Linked DNA regions of Homo sapiens: region 1 is linked to region 2. The links come from fine-mapping of genetic effects on gene expression. Tissue or cell type: whole blood. Region 2 holds a variant in brackets; the other region holds the start of a gene. All regions are shown on one strand. Distances are from middle to middle.

Region 1 (8,000 bases), 33 kb before region 2:
TTGTTGAATTACTGTGTTGAGCACTTTGAGTGTATTATCTCAATATATCTCGATCTTTGTAACAAGCCTGTGATGTTTCATCATCATTCCCTGTGTACAGATGGAGGGACAGGAGTCCTGGGTCTAGCTGTGCTAACACAGTAGCCACTAGTCATGTGCAGCTACTTAAATTAATTAAATTAAATTTAAATTAATTTAAATTAAATACACTAAACTTAAATACATTAAATTTAAATTAATTTAAATTAAATACAATTAAAAATTCAGTTCTTCAGTCACACTAGTCACATATCAAGTATTCAATAGCCACCTGTGATTAGTGGCCACCATTATGGAGGGTGCAGATATGGAATATTTTCTTCCAGGCAGAAAGTCAATTGGATTGGACATCTGTGAGTTAGGGGCACTTGCCCAGGGTCACAGCAAATGGTGAAGCTAGGCCTCTGACCCCACCTGAGTCTAATGCTCTGCAATAGCTCTTCATTGTTTCCACAATTTAAAAAATGTTTAAGCCTGGCCTTAGCCTTGTACAACCTGGTCTAGTACTACTGTTACATAATTATTTCTCTTTCTTTTCTTGCGCAATCTCACTTTCCAGCACAGCAAGCTTGCTCACTGCTCTCCCATACTCCTAATATGTCCACTCATAATATTTTTGCTCTCCTCCTTCTGTCTGCTCAGCTAATGAATTCTCCCCTGACCTTTAGGTTCAGATAGCTGAAATAGCTCTTGAAGCAGTTTCGTCTCTTCCATTCTCTCTGCTTCTGCCTGGACCAGCTCTGAAGCCCCTCATCCTCTCTTGCCATGGCAGCCTTCTGCTGCTACTAATTCTACTTCCTGACATTTATTGAGTATCTACCATGTGCTAGGCACTCTTCCAGGCACTCCTCATCACAACACTTTGAAGTAGGTGTTACTGCAGTCTCCATTTTAAAGACCTGGTAATTAAAGCACTGTGGGGTGAAATTTGTCCAACTCATCTCTCTGCTTCTAGTGTTTCACAGGCAGTTCGCCTTCACTCTATTACTCTGGCCATAGTTCTAAAACACAGAATTGTGAGTTTTCTCCCCCAGCCCCAAGGGGAGGGGGACAGCCTTCTTAACAGAGCATGCAAGGCCCTTTATGTTCAGAACCTTTCTAATCTCCAAACCCGCTACTCTACCTTCAAACTTGACATTCCAGCCACAAACGACTTACAGTTTCCCAAAGCGGCCGCTTTATTTCTTCCCTCTGCGCCATCACACGTGCGGTTCCCACTGCCTGGAGTACTGTCCATCCTGGCCAGCTCTGAAGCCATCCATGGAAATGCACTCCGGACCACGGGGCTTGCTCCCTCCTCCACAGGACCAGCACTCACTCTCCACCGGCAGCTCCTAAAGGAGGGCTGCTGCTGAGCTCACAGCCTTGACATCACTTCTCATTAAAATACACACTCCAAGATTCAAAATTTAATAGGCAGGGGTGGGGCTGGGTTTATTTTTTTATTTTTAAAGAAGCTCCCAGATTATTCTAGAGTGAGGCAAATGTGCTTAACACTGGTTTACATCCCTTGTTTGGCAGTTAAGCACACCCTGTCTAGATTCCTTGTGTATAATTGCTTTTGTTTTTATTTTATTCTTACCTTCATTCACTCACACTCACCTATTCAACAAACATTTATTAAGGGGTCATTATATGCCAGACATGCTTTTAGATGTTGATGTGAACAAAACTGGCACTGTCCCTGCTCATGAAGTTTATGTTCCAGAGGGGGTGTGGTGGGTGGGATAATAATGGCCCCCAAAGATGTCCACGTCCTCATCCCAGAACCTATGAATATGTCACCTTCCACGGCAAAGGGATTTATTTTGCTGATGTGATAAAATTAAGGATCTTGCGATGGGGAGATTATCCTGGACTATCCCCTCAATCACAGGGGTCCTTAGAAGGGAAAAGGAGGAAGAGGGAGTTAAGGCATGTGGGTAGCCTCACTCTAGAAGCTGGAAAAGGCGGCCGGGCACGGTGGGCTCACACCTGTAATCCCAGCACTTTGGGAGGCTGAGGTGGGCGGATCACCTGAGGTCAGGAGTTCGAGACCAGCCTGGCCAACATGGTGAAACCCCATCTTTACTAAAAATACAAAAATTAGCTGGGTGTGGTGGTGGAAGCGTGTAATCCCAACTTCTCGGGAGGCTGATGCAGGAGAATCACCTGAACCCAGGAGGCAGAGATTGCAGTGAGCTGAGATCACGCCACTGCACTCTAGCCTGGGTGACAGAGCAAGACTCCGTCTCAAAAAAAAAAAAAAAGTCAAGGAAACTGATTTTCCCCTAGAGCCTCCAGAAACAAGGCAACCCTGATGTCCCCTTGATTTTAGCCCAGTGAGACCATTATTTGGATTCCTGACCTACAGAACTGTAAAATAATAATAAGTTTGTGTTATTTTAAATCAGTAAATTTGTGGTAATTTGTTACGGCAGCACACACACAAAAAAAACTAATGCAAGGGGTATTGGTTATGTTTTGTGCAGGTATATGATGGGCCTCCCCATGTGGATCCTTAGTGCTGTGGCAGAGCCCTTGTTATTGTGCTGGGATTTTCCCTCCAGCTCCCGGCCGGAAGCTGGGCTCACGTGGGAGCTCAGTGCCCTCCTGCTACAGATCTGTCTCTTCCTTACAATGGTATGATCCCGAGGGTCAGGGTGAGGGGTTTGGGAGGATAAGGCTTGTGCTGATAAAAGGAAAGGTGAGGTCCGTTGCAGTGGCTCAAGCCTGTAATTCCAGCGCTTTGGGAGGCCGAGGTGGGAAGACAGCTTGAGGCCAGGAGTTGGGGACCAGCCTGGGCAATATAGCGAGACCCTATCTCTACAAAAAATAAATAACAAAAAATACTAGCCAGGCGTGGTGGCACACACCTGTAGTCCTGGCTGCTTGGAAGGCTGAGGTGAGAGCATTGCTTGAATCCAGGTGTTGGAGGATGCGGAGCTATGATGGCGCCACTGTACTCCTGCCCGGGCAACAGAGTGAGACTCTGTTTAAAAAAAAAAAAGTAGGGATTTGTGGGGAGCTGTGCGTGAGGATAGAATGTATAGAATGTTTGCAGTCAGAAGGTGATGGTCGCAGGGGTTCCCAGACTTTAGTGTGTGGAGAAATCCTCTGCGATATGGTGGGAGGGAACCTGGTTGATAGAAGGACGGGCGGAAGGAATTCTATTCACAGCGTACTCTAATATTTCTTAAGTTTTACCTATTAATTTTTAACAAGAAATTTTAATTTTAATTTTAAACGAAAATACGCATCGTACTCAGAGGTAAAGATTTTTAATCCTCGCGGTTCGCTCGTATAAAGGCATATTTCCGGTCCCTTCCAAGGTCCAACAATCCGGACACGGCGGGTCTGGGGATGGGCCCAGGAATCCGCCTTTTTAGCAGCATTCCCCCAAACGACACGGCAGCTTCGCAAAGCGGCGGTGGCGTCTGCGGTTCCGGGCGCGGGCGGCCTCCGGCCGGGGAGGGCGCTGTGCGGGCGGCGCTGGGGGCGGGCCGGGGGCGGAGCGCGGGGCGCCGGCTGCTCTGGCGGCTCCCGCGGCTCCGGCTGGCGGCTTCGGGCCCTGCACCTGTGACTCTCGGCCGCGCTCGCCCTCGGCCCGCCCGGCGCCGCAGCCCCATGGCCCCGTCCAGGCTGCAGCTCGGCCTCCGCGCCGCCTACTCCGGCATCAGCTCCGTGGCCGGCTTCTCCATCTTCCTCGTCTGGACGGTGGTCTACCGACAGCCGGGGACCGCGGCCATGGGAGGGCTCGCAGGTACCCCGGGACGCTGGGCGGCGCGGGGCGGGTGCGCGGCTGCGGGGCGGGCGCCGTCAGCTGCTCCAGGACGCTCCCCGCGAGCGGCGCTTCCCCGCGGAGCGGGTGGAGTGTTTACTCGAAAACAGCGGTTGGCGGCGGCAGGCCCCACGCGGGCCCGGGCTCCTGGGCATTCCTGGGTGCCTCTGAGACCCGATGCCCGCCCGGGCGCCACCTGGGGGTGCCGACGGCCCGCCACTGCCGGCTGCACAGACCTGCCGCGCCGCCCGGGTTATCTGTCACGGCACACTGCCTGTCGCCCTCCGCCCAGTTGCCCCACGACAGTGTCCCCTCCGCGCGCCCGCGGCGCTGGTCGCCTCCTATCCCCAAACACACACACACACACACACGCACACACACACGGTTGTTCTGAGGGATCCCCTGCCCCCCAGGCGCCCCTTCCCTGGGTGCTGGGTGAGGGCAGAGAGGGAAGAAGTGGGAAAGGAAGAGGGCTAGGGGTGGCTGGGGAAGCCCATCTCCCTCCTTCCAGAGGGCTCCCCCGCAGAGCCCTCTGCTGAGACCCACAGGGAGGACGGCGTTAGGGATCTCATAGAAACTGGACATTCTCTTTCCACCCATGTTGGTGCCTTTTTGCTACCCGTCTGCTGTGGCTCCTCAGCCAAGCTCTGCCAAATCCTGCAGGCCAGCCGCCCTTTCTGTGCTTCTGGGAGGGAAGGGGAAGCATCGGTGCGCTGATGGGGGCTCTGGGCTGACCAGTGCTCCTTGTTGTGCACATTTGGGCTCGCAGTTTAACCTCTCTGCGCCATAGAATTGGTATGAAGATGAAAAATATTATCTCTACTTTCTAACATTTTAAAAAATGCTTTCTATGTGTCAGGCACTATGTTAAGCAACCTGCTTCCCTTATTTCATTTAATCCTTACATTAGTCTCATGAAGTAGGCCTTACGATTATGTCCATTTTACAGATAAGGAAACTGAGGCCTGAAGTTAAATAAATTGCTTACCCGGGATTACACAGCTACATGAAATAATATGTGTGGGAAAGGACTTTGGGAAGAAAATACGTATAATACTTTTACATATGATGATTATATTCCATTACTAAAATCCTCGGCCAAAAGAACCCTAAATGGAATAACTAAAAATAACTAATTTACTCACTGCCACAGGGAGTGCTGAGTGCCATCCCTGGGTAGAGTCGCAGCATGAGGTGGGGTTAATGCCTTAGAAGAGGGGCATACAGGGCCCCACCCTACACAATGCCAACAAAGCACTGGGTCACCAAGAAGGGGGGATGGGCACCCTGGCTAGGGTGTTCTCTGCCTGCCCAGCTGCCTCACCACCTGTGGGATCCTGAGGACAACTGGCCCATCTCTGCGCGTTATCTACAGAGCCCTAGTTCCTTTCCCCACTGCACCCCGCCACCCTCCATGTTTGTCAAGGTTCACTTCTCCCTGCCACTTTTTTGTTTCCTATTGGCCCTGTTGCTTTCCCCTCTGGAAGGCGGCGTCAGAGCCCTATGATTGCATTGCGAAGACCGAAGGCAAGAGAAGGATGAGCAGGGAGGGCCAGCCTGGGATCTCAGCTGGTTGTGTTGAGTCTGGCCTGGTACAAGTGGAGGTGAACCCTACCTGGCCGTTTGACCCTATCCTGGGCCACAGTTTCCTCATCTATTAGGAGTGGGAGGAGATGTCCCCAAAAGACATCTGACTTCCCTCCAGATCTGAAATCTTGCAGTGCTGCCCACTCCCTGAGTCTCCAGCTGCCTCCTAGAGGGCTGTGGAAAAGGCCTTCTTTCTTATACTCTAGGGAGTTGCCTGGGGTTTTCTTCCGACCCAACTCTGCCCTCTCTCCCTCCCCACAGGCTTCCCTTGGCCTATGAGGCAGGCCAGCTGTGGAGCTGCCTTCAGAGAGAGGCGCTAGGGCAGCAGCTCGCTAGGGCAGCAGCTCGCTAGGGCAGCAGCCAGCTGGAGTAGGGTCCTGGTATCTCCCTGATGGTCTGATCTTTGACAGTGGCTGTGGAAGAGCCAAAACTGCTTGGTAGTGGTGGTGGTGGATGGTGGCAGGGAGAGGGGTTGCCAAGCCTGGGCCTCCGACCTTCCCCACCATGAGTGAGTTCTCAGAGGGTCTGTGGCCAGTCAACCTTCTTCCTCTTTTGGGGGTAAAGTGTCAGCAGATTAACTAACGTGTGAGCACCCTACTTCTGACTCAGCGTTTTATAGCTCAGAATCTGCTGAGTCACCCAAGGGTAGCCCCAGCATGCTCCTTCTCCTGTGTTGGACCAGGCAAGGACTGATTGGATGTGCCAGTTTCTGGAGCAGAGTCATGGAGCCCCTGGGTCTGGTGGGCAGAGTGTTCACGGGTGGGGATACCCTCTCCCATCCTGATGGGTACCTTCGAAGAAGTGGCTTTGGAGAAAGGCAGTGGCAGAAGCAAGACTGGCTTTCCTGGGGAGGCGGGCAGGTGTGGGTTGGATCTACCTGGTCTGGCTTTGCTGTGGGAGTCCTGGGGGAAAACACAAACTCTTGCTCTGGGTTTAGTAGACCAAGGAAAGAGAAAAAGAAAAGTTGCTCCTGAAGTCTAAACAGCTCTATGTTTTTCCCAGGTGAGCTGTGAGCAAGAGCCCTGGGGCTCCAGGACTGTCTTCCTCCTAGGAAGGAATAGAGGGGCCTGACCTAGGCCCAGTGTCCTTCTTGTCTGCATTTACCCTGTGGGATCCCCCGGGTGTCTCCTGTCTCCTCACCTCCAGCCCAGCCACTGGGGATGCTTTCACCGCCCTACCCTATGCCTTCCTTACCCTTAGCTTATCGGCTGTGAGCCAATAAGCTCACATGGCTAAGCAGGGGCTCTGCTCCTTGAAACAGGTAGGATGGAGCAACGGTGTGGTCTGGTGTGGGCTTGCAGCCAGGTGGGATTGGGGACCTGTCCATTCCACCCCGAGTTTTATAAACCAGGCTTCCTAGAGTCCCCAAGTGTGCCAGGGAAGGGTATTAGGGAGATACATTGCCTCCTGCCTGATGTGTGGGAGGGGACCAGTGAGGGGCTCCATCTCCTTCAGTGACCCCCTTGGGTAGGGCTGGTGGAGAGCTCCCTTCCCAGGAGGGTGGTGGGAGCCAGGGCGTGGGCAGCAGGCCTGCCTCCACACTTGATGTGTGTTTATCTGGAGGGGAGGCCTCTGTGCAGGGCCTGGAGCAAGGTTGAGGGAAGGTGAGAGGTGGGTAAACCATGCCTGTTGTTAACAAAGAACAGGGCCCAAAACGCCCCCAAATGGCTGTCTTCCTCTCCCTCCTGCCCTCAGCCCTCTTTGGTATGTGCATGTACATGGGGGTGGGAGTTTTGGGGAACCACTGGATCGTGGCCAGTGGACTAAGAGATGGCATCTTCACAGGCCCCTATTTCAGCATTTCCTAACCCAGAAACTGCTGAGTCACAGAGGAATTGTTCTGACCTTATTTTTCTCCCAAGCTGGCTTCTAGAATCTTTGAGTGGGAAAGGATCTTAGAGCTCAACTTCCCCAACCCCTCTGTGGCACGAGGAGACAGAGGGCGAGGGGACCTGTTCCAGACAGGTGCCCATCAGACTGCTCCTTGAGTGTGCTCAGTGACAACACCCCTTGTTCCCAGGGCCCTTTATAAACCAAACAGCTCCCTCAAATGAAAACATGGGACACATGTGAGGAGTGGGAGGGACTTCTGTGAAAGGTGGCTGGTATAAAAATCCAGATCTTGTAGGAGGTAAGAGGAAGCTGCAGGATGATTGTCCTGTCCACCTCTGGCCCACTCCAGCATCCAGACTAGGTGGGGAGGAACAGATGCTTGTCCTGGCCCACCCTGATCTCAGTAGGAGGGGGACCCACATTCCAGGCCCCCACCCCCTGAGGAAGAGTGGAGGTGGGCAGGGGCAAAGCTGGGAGAGTGTTCAGGGGGTCAAACGGTGGCAGGGGCTGAGGGAAGCTGTAGGCTTGGTAGGCCTTCACCCTCACTAGGGTAGAACCCTGGGCCCAGTTACCTAAACTGGCAGGACCCCTGGGCCCACCCATTTTTAGATGTGGAAACACCAAGGCTTTGGGACACAGCAGTGCCAGGCTCCTGGTTTCTTGGCTTGGAGTCTCATGGGTTTTTGTTCCTCACTGGACTGTCTGGGGACAGCCAAACTGGGACAGCCTCTGAGCTGGTAACCAGAGCATAGCTCCACAGTGACAAGCTTCCTCCTGCCTT
Region 2 (8,257 bases):
CTAATCAAAACGAGAAGACCCCACCCCATTCGACTCCTCCAGTCCCCCTGCTGGTGAAAAGGGCTCCCAGCTCCCTCTTCCTCAAGTCACTCATTCTAAATGACTTGAACTCAGACTACAGCAAGAACCTAAGGAGGCCTCAGCTCACCCAGCAGTGCCCTCAGCCCTCCCTCCTGTGGTCAGATACAATCTTCCCTGGGCAGCCAAACCAGGCTCCCATCGCCCGAGGGAAAGAAGAAGGCCAAGAGGTGAGGTGGGGCCAGAGGTGGGAGAGCCTGGCTGGGGGGATGGCTGGGGGGACAGGAGGAGAAAGGGAGGAGCAGGCCTGGAGAGAGGGACCCTGGCCTGCTCAGAGCCTCCCAGGTGGGAGTGAAAGGAGCAGGAGGGGACACAGAGGTTTCCAGAGTGGGGGAGGGACTGGGTCATGGCCCGGAGGTCAAGTCAGATCTGGTGGGAACTGTGAAGTGATAAGGTCAGGAGTGCACAGCCCAAGGACCCCATAGTGCAGACCCTTTTCCTCCCACTGCCCCATCCTATGTCCTGCTGCCTGTTTCCTCAGAGAAGGGACCTACTCAGCCTCTTTCCCAGATAATCTGAGATAGAAATCTTTTCTTTTGGAAATGGCTACCTCTCTCAGGCTCCTAAGCCCAGCAAGAAAACCTATAGTAGGGCCCAAGCTGGTCAGCAGCAGAAAGCCCCCAGGGGACATGGAGGCCAGCTGGGGTTGGAGAAGACAGAGATGAGTCCTGAGGCCACCTGTCCAGGACAGACACCTTTCCCTCTTGCTGTCCAGTTCAGGGTCAAGGGGACAGGAGGCCAGGAGACCCAGAGGCTGCCTGGACGGGGTACTGGGTGGACACAGAAGCGCTCTGCTGGCCAGACTTGGGGCAGAAGGGATATTTTTTGAGAAACTGCCGGGGTGCTCCTTTGGGTCTGTGTCTCAGAGGCAGCCACAGTTCCTCTTCAGAGCCGAGAAATGAGAACTTCCTGCAGGCAGGCGCTGCTGGGGGAGGGGGCAGCCTGGGCACAGGGAGACTCCCACCGACTGCCCCTCAAACCAGCCCATGCTTTGGGTAACAAAGTTCGGTCCGAAAATGCTGCTCTACCTATTTAAATTCTGCCCATCCTCTGAGGTCCAGCCCAAGTCCATCTCCTTGGGAGGCTCTCCCTGACCTCTCCCCTCTTCCTTTTCCACAGCACTCGCTCTGTGTCTACCACCTTGACACTTCATTCATCATGATCTCTGTGGTGCCCTGTGGAAGCCATGCCCATCTGCACCAAACACCTCGCAGGGCACGTGGCAGGCTCTGTTAGTAGCTGACAAATCAAATACAATGACTCTCTCCTGACAACCTGCCTGAGACACAGCATGCATATTTCTCAAGGTGGTGGGCCTCAGAGGCAAACTCCCCTCCCCACGACATGGTAACCCCCAATCCCAGGCCTTCTTAGTACCTCTTCTTTCTTCTGCAGGACCTGGTCCTCCCAGAGGTTTCTGGACTGGGCTCCAGGGTGCACTCCCAGAGACTGTGTCAGGCTGAGTCCCCTGCCTCCTGGGAATTCTGTCCCACCTCCCCAGTCCCTACCCAGGGGCTGGTCAGCAGCATTCATGCTTGGGAGCAGAGCCAGGTTCTCTGTGCCTTGCTCCCCTGGTAACCACAGATTCCGGACACCATGCACTCTCTGGATAGGAGAAAAATTAATGACCCTGAATTCTGTGGTGTGGGCTACCAGGCCCCAAAGGGATGTTTTGTGGTGATAATCCATAATATAAGGTCTGTCCAGAAAAGCTGTGTGCATGTGTGCATGCGTGTTGGCAACGGGGCTGCTTCCAATAGCAATTCCTGGAAAAAGTTCTGCTTTTCCCCCGCTCCCTGGCCCCGTGCTGAGGGCCATCAAGTTCAGAAGAGCGCAGAGCGACAGAGATTAAGACCCAGGAACAGCTCTCTTTGTGTCCTAGAGAGAGGAAAGGTATCTACTGGCACCCCGTCAGTAGCTGAACTGAAGCCAGAGCATGAACATCCTGCCTCCCAGTTCTGGCTTGAGTGTGGGACCTCTTTTCCCATCACTGCCTCTCTCCGAGGGCTGTTACTACTAATTTGGGGTCAGCCTGAAAAAAAAAAAAAAAAGAGAAGTAAATGGACCCAAGGTACCAGGAATACTGTCTAGCACAGGGCTCTTTGCCAGGTTGGAGAGCTCTTCTTTTTGGAATCCTGGCTACTCCCCTTTTCTATCTTCTTTGGAGGCAACTGCAGTCAGACTTAAGAACAGTTTACTTGGCACTGGGGCATGTGGGCCTACCAAGTCACCTTCTTAAACCAGAACACCTGATTTTACCCAGAAACCTATGGAGCCCCTGTTCCAATAGGTGCACCCCAGCCCTCAGCAACCTCCAGAGTAAACACAAACACAATTCTAAGCACCTGGAACAAACTGACCTCCCTACTGCTCCTACCTTATTGCCTCAGGCCCCAGTCTTGGTCCTCCCTCCCCAGCAGGTATGACTTTGCCTCCTAGATCTGCAAAAGGTGGATGAAAACCTGAGCCTTGCCGACCACCTGCTCTCCCAGGAGCTTCATGTCTTCAGTGGGACAAAAGGCTTCCCCAGGAGCACTGCCACCTAGAACGCCCCCCTCCCGATGCCTCCAGTGTCTTTTCTTAATTTTTTTTTTTTTTTGAGGTACGGTCTTGTTCTGATGCCCAGGCTGGAGTGCAGTGATGTGAACATGGCTCACTGCAGCGTTGACCTCCTGGGCTCAGGCAATTCTCCTGCCTCAGCCTCCAGAGTAGCTGGGACTACAGTATGCACCACGATGCCTGGCTAAATTTTTTTTGTTTTGTTTTGTTGTTTTTTTTTTTGTAGAGACGAAGTCTTCCCCTGTTGCCCAGGCTGGGCTCCTGGGCTCAAGCGATCCTCCCCGCTCATCTTCAAAGTCTTTGTTGAGGCTGTTCCCACCTCCCTGGACTCTTGATTAGCGGAAAAGGAAGCAGCAGCAAGAAGACCTAGGCCCCAGCAGCAAGAGGAAAGCAGGCAGTGGCAGAAGGCCATAGTCCTGGGTTCAGAGCTGACTCCCTTCACACCCGAGGTTGCTGTCTCTGGTTCTCCTTCCCTGACATAGGCTGGAAAAAGCTTGAGTCTCCATGGGGCTGGCAGAGAAGATGAAGGCTGGTGGTGAAATGGCTTCAGGAAGATCCAAGAACAAATAAACAGGAGAAAGAACACTGTGGTTGCCAGGCCTCCCTGACACAGAGTGGGGGCTGAGCACAGAGGATCTGCTCCTCTTCCAGGCTTTAGAGATCGTTCAGACCAACACTCTCATTTGACAGAGGAGCAAAGAGAAAGAAGGGGCTAGGTCACAGCCACCCAGCCAGCCAGTGGTCCAGCCAGGCCAGGCCAGACCAGTACAGGGGAAACCCAAAGGTCAACCCCAAATGCAGGTACTACTTCCCTGGGAAGTCACTGATCTAGGGGTTGAAAAGATGGAAATATGAGTGAAACCTGGTTCTCACTTTCAAGGAGTTTAGAATACAGCCTGCAGCCTTAAACATATTTGAACAAGTACAATACTTGCAGATACTAAAAAAAATTCAGAGAGCCCAAAAGTTGTTAGGATAAGTTTCTCATTCATCCCAGACTCCCTAGAACTTCCCTGGAAGCCGCCCTTTCTAACAGCTTCTTGTGTCTCCCTTCCAGAAATTCTCTATACTGCTCATTGATTGGCACTGAATGCTTCTTGCTCAGATTTATCCAGAACCCAGCAGGGAGCTGAGAGTGGGCTGGAAGCCCCTGCCACATGAAGTCTGGCAGGCC[A/G]CAAACTGTGAGGGAATTGAAGGTCTAAAGCACACAGGACATTGGCTTTGCGGTCAGATGGGCCTGGGTTTAAGCCCCGACTCCCTCGGTGACTGGCAAAGCAAGCCAGAAACACAATTTAACCTGCTTAAGCTGCCCCACCTGTAATCAGGAGATAAGAATACCTACTTCAGGCTGGGCGAGGTGGCTCACGCCTATAATCCCAGAACTTTGGGGAAGTTCTGCCCTGGCCAAGGCGGGCAGATTACTTGAGGTCAGGAGTTCGAGACCAGCTTGGCCGACATGGTGAAATCCCATCTCTAACAAAAATACAAAAATTAGTCAGGCATGGTGGCGGGGAGCATGTAGTCCAGCTACTTGGGAGGCTGAGGCACAAGAATCGCTTGAACCCAGGAGGCGGAGGCTGCAGTGAGCTGAGATTGCACCACTGCACTCCAGCCTGGGCGACAGAGCAAGACTCCGTCTCAAAAACAAAAACAAAAACAAACAAAAAGAATACCTACTTCAAAGAGGTCACCTGAGATTAGCAATGCTGTCTGTGATGCACCCAGCACATGGTGGGTGCTCCCTTGTGGTAGCGAGTATTAGTTTGCCTCCTGTACTTGTCTGCAGCCTCCTTCCTGGCATTAGCGTTTCAGTGTCTGCTCCCAACTCTCCTCCCTCCTCTACCACAGACCATTTTCTCCTGAATGCATGCCCCTGCCCCATCTCTCTCTCTCTCTCTTTTTTTTTTTTGAGATGGAGTCTCGCTCTGTCACCCAGGCTGGAGTGCAGTGGCACAATCTCAGCTAACTGCAAACTCTGCCTCCTGGATTCAAGTGATTCTCCTCCCTCAGCCTCCCAAGTAGCTGGGACTACAGGCATAAGCCACCAAGCCCAGCTAATTTTTGTATTTTTAGTAGAGACGGTGTTTTGCCATGTTGGCCAGGCTGGTCTCGAACCCCTGTCCTCAGGTGATTTGCCTGCCTCGGCTTCCCAAAGTGTTAGGATTACAGGCGTGAGCCACCGTGCCCAGCCCCCTGCCCTATCTCTTATCCCCAGCCTCTCCCAACTATGCTCTCTTCCCTTTCTCTTCCACCTGAACTTTTGTAAGCGAACACCTTATTATGTGCCAGGAGTTGTTCTAAGTACCCTACATTTGCTAACTTATCTAGTCCACATGACAAACCTATGAGGTATTTACTGTTTTATCCCCATTAGATAAATGAGTACGCTGAGGCCCAGCAGTATTAGATAACTTGTCTGAGGTCACAGACAAGTGGCAGAGGTTGAGCTGGGACTTGAGCCCAGGCAATTGGGCTTCAGAATCCACGCTCTCAACCAATACACTCCACCCCTCCTCCCCAGCATTCCCATTCGCCACAGGCCAGCCAGCAAAGGACACATGCAGGACCTAGATGGGCATGCAGAAAGATGGAAAAAAAAAATCACACAGCCCCACAGAGACCCGTGCCAGCAGCAATCCCCAGCCCTGCGCAGGTGAGAGGGCAGAAGCTATGTCATCTTTGGGTGCCCATGAAGACAATCTCAAAGAATCATTTGGAGCAACTGTTGACTTTGTAGAAACCAAGCAATGATTTGGGACTGTGTGCTGGAAACAGGGGGCTGGCAATGGGTTGGGGTCTTAGAGGACCCTCAGCTCCAACTCCCCTGCTCTCAGTGCCCTGCCATATCCCTTCTCTAGAAGCTCCCAAGTCCCTCTAGGACTCTCTCATTAGCGTCCCAAAGCAAGCTGCACCATTTCTCTGTATAGGCAGAGGAGCCAGCTGCCCATCAGGGCAGAGGCTCAGCTGCCAGGTGAGCCAGCCGGGATGTCTGCCTACCCAGACGAAGGCCTCCATCAGTCCGAGGCAAGAGGACAGAGAAGCTCCTGCACACCAAACAGGAGGCTGGATGTAAGGGTGGCAACAGTGAGCATGCCTCTTTCTCCGCCACCTCAGGGCAGCTGGGGCCCTGAGGCAGCTATTTTTAGCTCTTGACACCTGGGTATTTTGCAGCCGCAGGATGTCCGGTTTGGAGTCTCTTTCTGGGAATCCCACATGCGGCTGTTGTAAACAGCCCCACGCAGCAGTGGCCTGAGCTGGGAGCCAGTGTCGCCCCCCCACCCCACCTCCACTTCTGCTGTTTGAGATGAATCAAACAGGAAGCAGATGTAACCATGGCAGCAGCGGCTTGAGCTCCCTGGGGGTGGGAAAGCATCCTCCCTGGTTCTTTGTCCCCCACCCCAGATCCCCAGCTCCACCCTGTGGCCTCTCCTCAAGGATGAAGACCTGGCAGAACCTGAGGCCGGGGAGCTGGGCCATTCTGAGTTGCGTATGGCTGTCGGTTTCTGGGTCTGGCACTCTCTGGAGACCCTTGCTGTCCTCTGACAGAGAAAAACAGGGGTCCTCCCAGCCCTGTCCAACTCCCGGGACCTCTCGGGCCACCACTCAGCCTTCCCTGCAAGTCCATTGTGAAGGGGAGGGCATAGCTACTTCCTGCGGTGGCAGGCCTGGAGGGCCTGCATCTACTTCCTATTACCCATGGCCTTCAGCTTATAGCCTGGCCTGCCCCTGCACTGCTCTGCCCACTTAGGGAATTCCTGAGCCAGTGGGCTCCCCTAGTCCACACTACCCTAAGATTTCTCAGTTCCAAAAAGCCCTCAAAGACATAAGTTCCACATTCATCCTCACTCCTCTGCTCCAGTATCTCCAGTCCCTGAGATAGGAAGTTCACCATGATGTCTAACTACCATCTTTCCTATCATAAGCAAAACATCCTGAGCAGGCAAGATTTGAGGCCCTATCTGTAACATGGGGATAAGTCGGCCAGTTTCTGCCTTCATCTCTCCCCTTCGCCTTTACCCCTCTGGTGCCCCACTTAGACCAGTTGCTCCTTTAGCAGCCAGTGTGAGCCAGTCTTTCTCAAGGGCCAGTGTTTGCCCCAACAGGAAGCACAGTCACCGCCCCAGGCTGCCTCTAGGGGCGGCTCCTTCTCCCCTCTGAGGTGTCACACTCATTCCCTTGCTCTCCTTGTCACCCCAGCTCCTGGGCCCTCCTCATGCAGACCCTGCCCCTCTGTGTACCCTACTCCTGCTTTGCCCACTGGTTCTGCCTCTCCCAGCTGCAGGCCGAGCGAGATGTGCCTTCCTCACTCTTCTCACCTGTGCCACCCACAAGGCCACGCAGCCCATTCCCAAGACTGCCAGGGAAATGTTTAAGTTACAATATCAACAATAGTTATATTATTTTAATTAATTAATAATATTAATAATGATCAACAATCATGTGTTAATGCTTACTGTGTGCTGGCTATTATCCTAGGCATTTTTGGCGGGGGGAGGGCAACATCCTCCCACTAAGCGATTTTTATTTATTTATTTATTTTGAGATGGAGTCCCACTCTGTCACCCAGGCTGGAGTACAGTGGCACGATCTTGGCTCACTTCAACCTCTGCCTCCCGGGTTCAAGTGATTCTCCTGCCTCAGCCTCCTAAGTAGCTGGGATTACAGGCGTGCGCCAACATGCCTGGCTAATTTTTGTATATTTAGTAGAGACGGGGTTTCACCCTGTTGATTAGTCTGGTCTCGAACTCCCAGCCTCAAGTGATCCGCCCACCTCTGCCTCCCAAAGTACTGGGATTACAGGCCTGAGCCACCACACCAGGCCCCCACTAAACATTTTAATTGTACTATTGCAAGTAGTCCTCACAACTCTGTAAGGCAGATACTGTTTTTTTGTTTGTTTGTTTTGTTTTGTTTTTGAGACAGAATTTCACTCTGTCACCCAGACTGGAGTGCAGTGGCACAATCTCAGCTGACTGCAACCTCTGCCTCCCGGATTCAAGTGATTCTCCTGCCTCAGCCTCCCAAGTAGCTGGGATTACAGGTGCAAGCCACCATGCCCAGCTAATTTTTGTATTTTGGTAGAGACGGTGTTTCACTATGTTGGCCAGGCTGGTCTCAAACTCCTGAACTCACTGAATCCACCCACCCTGGCCTCCCAAAGTGCTGGGATTACAGGCGTGAACCACTGCGCCCGGCCTATATACTGTTATTATTCTCATTTTGCAAATGAGGAAACTAAGGCTAAGAGAGGTTCAGAAACTTGCTGAGGTCACACAGATGGTATGTGGAGCTGCTGGGACTCCAGAACCTAAGCTTAGCATCGGTACACTGGCGTGGACTGCTTACTCAGCCTGCCTCCTAGTAGTGGCTGAGGTGAGACCACCAAGGGGACAAGGGGATGCAAGACACAGTGAGGCCCTAGGGTATGCTCCCAATGCCAGCCTGTTCCCACAAAGTGTGCTGTGTTCCACCCCTGCCATCCTCAATTCCTTTTTCATCTTCTATTTCCCTTCCTTTTTAAATGTACATTTTACCATTTTAAAGTGTACCATTTAAACACTTTACAGTGTTTCCTGTTAGCTGCCTCCAGCAGGGTATAACTAAACAAGCAAACCTCCCA

The links. PIP is the estimated chance that this variant, and not a neighbour inherited with it, causes the effect.
Region 1: it holds the start of SLC48A1, and the variant in region 2 is fine-mapped to the expression of SLC48A1 in whole blood (TOPMed, PIP above 0.99).

The regions. Positions count from the first base shown.
Region 1 is chr12:47,769,660-47,777,659 of GRCh38, forward strand. It overlaps SLC48A1 (solute carrier family 48 member 1), which reads left to right and starts at 3,579. Exons shown (of 3, transcript NM_017842.3): 1 at 3,579-3,781. The coding sequence starts at 3,646. RefSeq lists a silencer at 3,445-4,054 and enhancers at 3,800-4,306, 4,307-4,811.
Region 2 is chr12:47,802,412-47,810,668 of GRCh38, forward strand. The region is part of intron 1 of HDAC7 (histone deacetylase 7); the gene reads right to left. It overlaps LOC124902926 (a long non-coding RNA gene), which reads left to right. Exons shown (of 2, transcript XR_007063290.1): 1 at 1-248; 2 at 2,864-3,222. Among named protein-coding and RNA genes, the nearest start is that of HDAC7, 13 kb to the right of the region's middle. RefSeq lists an enhancer at 6,521-6,590. The variant A/G (reference allele first, on the strand shown) is at 3,812.